Linked DNA regions of Homo sapiens. The protein of the gene in region 2 purifies or fractionates together with the protein of the main gene of each other region. This does not show direct contact. Each region holds a gene or a part of one and is shown on either strand. Other genes may lie near its edges.

The links. Proteins that work in one complex are often made in the same cells at the same time.
Region 1: the proteins of CEMIP (region 2) and MKRN2 purify together in Homo sapiens (affinity purification with mass spectrometry, with the first as the bait; one study listed by BioGRID). This does not show direct contact.

The regions. Positions count from the first base shown.
Region 1 is NC_000003.12:12,574,087-12,577,586, reverse strand, and holds part of MKRN2 (E3 ubiquitin-protein ligase makorin-2), read right to left. Parts: intron 2,796-3,500; coding exon 2,581-2,795; intron 957-2,580; coding exon 846-956; intron 1-845. UniProt on the Homo sapiens protein: E3 ubiquitin ligase catalyzing the covalent attachment of ubiquitin moieties onto substrate proteins.
Region 2 is NC_000015.10:80,880,370-80,883,869, reverse strand, and holds part of CEMIP (cell migration-inducing and hyaluronan-binding protein precursor), read right to left. Parts: intron 2,971-3,500; coding exon 2,734-2,970; intron 1-2,733. UniProt on the Homo sapiens protein: Mediates depolymerization of hyaluronic acid (HA) via the cell membrane-associated clathrin-coated pit endocytic pathway. Binds to hyaluronic acid.

The DNA of each region.
Region 1 (3,500 bases), on a different chromosome or scaffold from region 2:
TACGAAGAATCAGGAAAATGTGATCCATTCTTAAAAGACAACAGAGGTCAACTTCAAGATAACAAGGATTTCAAAGTAGCTGCTACAACTATGTTCAAGGAGATGAAAAGAAAAAAAGATTGAAAAAGAATGAATATCCCCAGAGATCTATGAACAATATAAAAAAACTATCATAAACGGAAGTAGAGTCCCAGCAGGAAAAGAAAAAAACAAGACAGAAAAAAAGTTAATGAAACAATAGCTAAAATTTCGCTCATCTTGGGGAGTGACATAAGCGTAGAGAAAAACCACTCCACTCCTAGGCAAAATATCAACATGCTGACAACCAGGATAAAGAGGAACATTTGAGGCCGGGCACGGTGGCTCATGCCTGTAATCCCAGCACTTTGGGAGGCCGAGGCAGGAGGATCACTTGAGCCTAGGAGTTCAAGACCAGCCTGGGCTACATGGCGAAACCTTGTCTCTACCAAAAAAAATTAGCCAATTAGCTGGGCATGGTGGCGCACACTACTGGTGGCCCCAGCTACTCAAGAGGCTCCTGCTTGAGCCCAGGAGGCTGAGGCTGCAGTGAGCTGAGATTGCACCACTGCACTCCAGCCTGGGCAACAGAGTGAGACCCTATCTCACCGAAAAAAAAAAAAAAAAAAAAAAAACACCAAAACTAAACAGGTCCACATCACCATGTCCTTGCTCATTGCTGCATCCCAGAGCCCAGCATGGTGCCTGAGAGAAGGAAGAGAGGAAGAGGCCCCTAAGACCACACTCCTGGGAAGGAGAACGAGGACACGGGCTGACAGCAGAGCCAGGCAGGCAGCAGGGGCACGTCGAAACTCAAAAGCACTTACCCCATCCCCTGTTTGAAAGCTTCAATCAACTCGTTCTTTTTATTCTGATCTTCCACCCAATACACACTTGGAATTACAAACTCTGATATCACACGGCATTCTGGACAAGACCTGAAATAAGAATTAGATTACTAAGGGAGAAGTCATGTTACGAAGCCTGGGCACACTCTCTGCTAAACCTCTTGCTCAACTGCCTCACCACTACAGGCATTTCCTTCACCAGAAATTCCAAAAGATGAAATCACAATCATCCAAGAACCTTATTTACTATTAACAAAATAGGGTTTCCCAATGAGAACACATGGACACATGTGGGGGAACATCACACACCGGGGCCTGTCGGTGCAGGGGCAAGGGGAGGGAGAACATCAGCACAAACAGCTAATGCATGCATGGCTGAAAACCTAGGTGATGGGTTGAGAGGTGCAGAAAACCACCGTGGCACATGGATACCCATGTAACAAAGCTACACATTCTGCACATGTACCCCAGAACTTAAAGCAAAAAAAATACACACACACACACACACACACACACACACACACACACACATATATGGTTTCCTCAACAAAAAAGACAGATGAAATAACCCTCATACATTGCTGGTGAGAATGTAAAAGGGTGCAGCCACTTTGAACAGAGTCTGGCAGATTCTCCAACAGTTTAATGTAGAGTTATTATACCATAAAACCTAGCAATCCCACGCCCAGGTGTATACCCAAGAGAAATGAAAACACATGCCCACATGCTGTGTTCACAAATGTTGACAGCAGCATTATTCATAATAGTTGCAAAGTTAAAACAGCCTAAATGTCCACTAGCTGAGGAATGGATAAGGGAAATGTGCTGCGTCCATACAATGGAACATATTCCGCCAGGAGAAGGGGACTCTGGCACATGCTACAGTCGGGATGAACTCTGACAACACTATGCTCAGTGAAAGGGGCCAGGCACAAAAGGCCCCAAATTCTATGATTCCATTTATAAGAAGTGTCCAGAATAGGCAACTCTGTAGAGACAGAAAGCGGATGAGTGGTGAGTTAAATTGTGGGCTTTTATCTCAATAGAGCAGTTGTTTCACCACACGATTTTAGGCAAATTACTTGACCCCCGCACCCCAGGCCTGTTTCCTAATCTGTAACTGAGGAGGGTCTTTGAGGGAATGAGATGAGCGGACAGATGTGGAGTTCTGAACAGTAGAACGCGTGCAGTAACCTCTCCACATGCCAGCTCTTCCCCTGTCCTGCTGGAGAATTTGAGACTCCTATGTTGGCCACATTGAGCACATCCCATGTGCCAGGCATCATGCAGAATGTTTTACATGCATTATTCCACTTCATCCTCAAATAACCCTATTTTCGTTTTTGGTGGGGGGAAAAAACGAAGCTCAAAATGATTAACAGGCAACTGGGCTACAGGCAGGTACTACTGGATTTCAAACACAAGGCTAGGAGATGAAAACAGGTCAGTGCCATTTAACACCTTTTTACACAGATCATCTTTGCTGAGTTCCTCCCCAACACCCAGAAAGCTTGGTAGGAATTGTTGCCCATCTTTTATAGGAACAGGCACTTAGGCTCAGGAAGAGTAAATGACTTGCTGAAGTTCATGCAGCCAGGGGCCAGAACTCACCAGTTACTCTTGAGGGTAACGGAGGGCTTAAAAGTGGACGGAATAAAGTCTCAAATCAAACATTCTCCTAGCTCCCACAGCTAAGACCCCTGGCTGTACTTACTTAATGATTGGGTTTTCAAACTGTTTGGCACACCGCCACTGCCGGATGCAGGACAAACAGTACGTGTGATTGCAATTGGAGAGAATCCCAAATCTCCTCTCAGAAGCAGAGGCCTTCTCCAGGATCACTTCCATGCAGATACTGCACACTTTGTCCTGGCTTGCCTGGAAGGCAAAGGCCTTTTCCATCTCGTGTTCGAACGTCAACATGCAGATCTGAAGCACAGACAGGAAGGAAGGCTTTGGTTGTGGGCCACTGAGGAGTGGCAGGAGCCCTAGGAGTAGCTGCAGCCACACTGCCACAGCTGAGATCAGGAAGGAACACTGACAGCGACTGCTGTGAGCAAAGGCCCAGGCTCCCCCAAGTCAGGACACTGACATCTCCCTCAGACCACACAAAGGACTTCAAACCATCACTGGTCCAGCCCCTTGCTTTCCTAGGAGGTGACATGGTCACCACCCATTTAGGACTGAGAACACGGAGATCCAAAAAGGTTAAACTGCAGTGGAGTCAGAGTCCGTAAGGACTGCGGCCCTAGTCCCCCAGCTCCTCTGGGCACTGTTTCCCCCGACTCTGAGCCATGTCTACATCAGAGATGCTGACTCGTCCTTACCATGAGGCTTGAGGCTGGCAGCCTAGTCCTATGTAAGAAGCACCACTTCTCCCCAAGAAAATGATTCAATGAATTCATTCATTCACTAGGCATGCCCTGAATTCCTTCTATGTGCTGGCATTTGAGCAAGAGTGAGAAGACCTAGGCCCAGCCCTTGTAAGCTCAGTCTGTCCAGATCTGAGACAAGCCAACACTCACCGCAGAGACCTCACACACTTGCATAAAGAAGACAGCTCTAACCCTCTGCTTCCCTGGAAGACAATGGAGAGTGTCTCCTTGTCCGCTGCCACATGGAGTCAGTACTAAT
Region 2 (3,500 bases):
AGGTCTAGGCCTTTTGATGTTCCCCTTTCATCCTGGAGGCAGAGGATCATGCCTCTTGGAAGAGCCTGACTTTAGGAGATAGTTCAGATAGCTAGGGCATTAGGAATTTATATCTCTGATCCGAGTAAAACACCAATCCCAGAATTCTTGGAAATGACATGGAGACTATCCCAAATCCCTTCTCCCACCCCTAGAGCAGCTTGCACAGAGTTACTTGCAGAGATCCAACTTAAAGTTTATTTATTGACCTGTTAATGATTCTTATGATAATGCATCTTAGAATCATTAAAATGTAATCTCTGATTCACACAGTAGCAGTCATATAACATTTGAGTATTGTAAATGTTGTTGCATTGCTATTTTCTCCTGTTTATTTTTTAAAAATTATTTTACTTTATTGTGGTAAGAACACTTACCTTGAGATCTACCCTCTTAAAATTTTAAGTGTACTATCCAGTATTTTGCAATGTTAGACAGCAGATCTCTTATAATAGCAAGAACTAATAATCTCCAAATTGACTGATAACCTGCCCTCATACACGTAAAATATCCATGAAATACAAATCACACACACAAAATCTATACCCCTGGTGAGAATAATTTACAAAGCAAAGACACAATTTTGTAATGATTCCAACTCTTCCCCATGTAAGGATAAAGATTTTATGCAATTACAGTAGAAATTCCTAAAGAGTATGTCTTGGAACTTAAGGAAAATAGTTCTAAAATGAATCTGGGAAAGTAATCTAAGGAGGTTTTTGGAAAAGAAAAACAATGTTGGTACCGGTGGTAGCTGGATAGCTGCTCCTGGGTCCTCACACTTGTTTCCAACTGTTGGCACAATCTGGTCCAGCCCCACCTAACCTCGCACCCTCCACTGACCCTCCCCAGGAAGCTCCTGCTGCAAGCCTAGTGCTTCTCAGTGCCCAGTGACCACCTCACCCGCCCACTCCTGTCTTCATCATTCCTTCCCACCTTTTCTGTACCTGATCAAGCACCTACTACCTTTCAAAAGCTGACCTAAGTTCCTGCTTCTCTAAGTAACCTTCTCAGATGACTTTTGCCTGCATTTACTTGTGTGTGTGTATGTGTGTGTGTGTGTGTGTGTGTGTATGTGTGTGCATGCGCTTATTATCTTTACTCATACACATTCATCTATCAGATTATTGAGATCTCCAACATATACTTTAAGCAAAAGATATTCGGAACAAGCAGACATTCTGTCCTTGCCATCTCTACAGCATCTGTCCAGATCACTTCTCACTAACAGGTCAGTAAATAAACTTTAAGTTGGATCTCTTCAAGTAACACTGTTGTACTTAAGAAACAGCACCAAAAAGATCAGCACACAATTGAAGAGGACATCCTCTCTAGTGTGAAGGCAGGGGCTCCCTGACATACTTTGTGTCAATCAAGGTGTCAGCCGTTATCCGTGGAGGCGATACAGGCACACCTGGGTTTGAATCCCATCTCCAACACTTTCCAACCTTGTGACTGAGTAAATTTAGCCCTGTGAGCCTCAGTGCTTTCATCTCTACAAGGTAGATAATAACAGAACTTGCCTCACAGAATTTTGATGAAGATTGAAGTATATTTGACAGGTAAAGTGATGAACAGTGTTTTACGGGGAGAAAGTCCAGTGACTGTTATAGGTACTAATGTTTACCGGCAAGGTTGGGTGTCTGTGAGCACCAGCAAGCACTTCAGCTCCTGCCCACCCTGCCCCTGACCGTAGCTGGCTCCTGCTGCCTTCATGGTGACACCCACAGCTCGGGCCCTGTTCTTGAGGAATGCCTGTCTCCCTTCCCCAGCAGCCCCAGGGTAGCTCTGTCTCTGTTTGTCTACCCCACCTCTGTCCTTCCCTCTAAAGGGCCAGGATGAGAGCTCCTGGGACTGCAGGGCAGGTCCAGCCTTGGCAGCATCTGCCAGCTTACACCTGCCCATGCTGCCTTCCAAACATCTCTCAGGTACATCCACTAGCCGCCGTTCCTTCTGGGTCCTCATCACTGCCATGTCTTGCCTAGACCACAGCAGAAGCTTCCTAACCCCCTGCACCATCTTTGCTTTTGCCTCACAATTAAAACCATTCTCTACAGCCAGAAGGTACTTTTAAATCAGATCATGCTCTTCTTAAAGACTTTCAGTGACTTTGCATCCCACTTAGAAGAAAACCCACGTCCTTACCGCAGCCTCCGAGGTCCTGTCCCGCCCCCATTTGTAACTCCCATGTGATTGCATGCTGCTCTTCCGCCACTCGCTGTGCTCCCACAACTCTGGTGGCCTTTCCATCGTTTGAGAATGTCATGCCCTTTCATACCTCCGGCCTTCTGCACTTGCTGTCTGTCTTGAACACTCTTTCCCTGACATATCCTCACCCTTCATTTCTCAGCTCAAATGTTGCATCCTTACACTGCCTTTCCCTGACCACCCTATCCAAAGTGGTCTTCCCTAGTTACACTCTAGCATCTCACTCTGTCTTTTTTCCCCCTTACTACCAATTATCACAATCTGAAACTACGTTGTATGTACATATGTGTGCATGCTTGCTCCTCTTCAATTCAGCATCATTAGGCCAATGCCTGGGGAAGGACAGAACTCCTTGAAGGCAGGGATTCCCATCTGTTTCATTCACTGCTGTTCTCCCAGCACCTAGAGCGGCACCTGGCCAGGGAGCACACTCAATAAGTGTACTTTGAATGAATGAGTATACGTTTAAGTGAAGGCAAACCTTACCGGTCAGAATGGATGACTGTGCCTGATTTGGGGTCGATGACATGAACAATAACTCCACGGTGGCCCCAGCTCCTTTCAAAAAAATAGCCTCCTTCTGCCATGCCACCTGGGTGAAGGGTCTTGTTCAGAAATGTCCAGGAGAGCTTTTTCTGTCCATGCAACTCAAGAGCGCCTCCTTTACCAACCCCAATGTACTTCAGACCATAGTAAGGATCCGGCTGAATACCTTCATCAGCCCTGCAAGAGAAAACAGCTCCCCAGAGTTGGCTGACACATCTCTTTACTGGATACTGAACCCAGAGGGAACCTAGGAGTCACAGCTCAGCTCCCTGACCCCCCACCACGGCCACCATAGAGCCAGTCACACTTTTATCACCTGAGGTCAGTAAAAATAACACTAGCGGCTGGGCTTGTGGCTCATGCCTGTAATCCCAGCACTTTGAGAGGCCGAGACAGGCAGATCACTTGAGGTCAGGAGTTCAAGACCAGCCTGGCCAACGTGGTGAAACTCCATCTCTACTAAAGATACAAGAATCAGCCAGGCGTGGTGGAACATGCCTGTAGTTTCAGCTATTTGGGAAGCTGAGGCACCAGAATTGCTTAAACCAGGAGGCAGAGGTTGTGGTGAACTGAGCTCATGCCACTGCACTCCAGCCTGGGCCACAGAGCAAGATTCCATCTCAAAACAACAACAACAATAACAACAAAAACATTAGCAACCCAATCTTCCTAAGCCAGACCAAAATAAAGCCCTCAGGGCCAAGCAG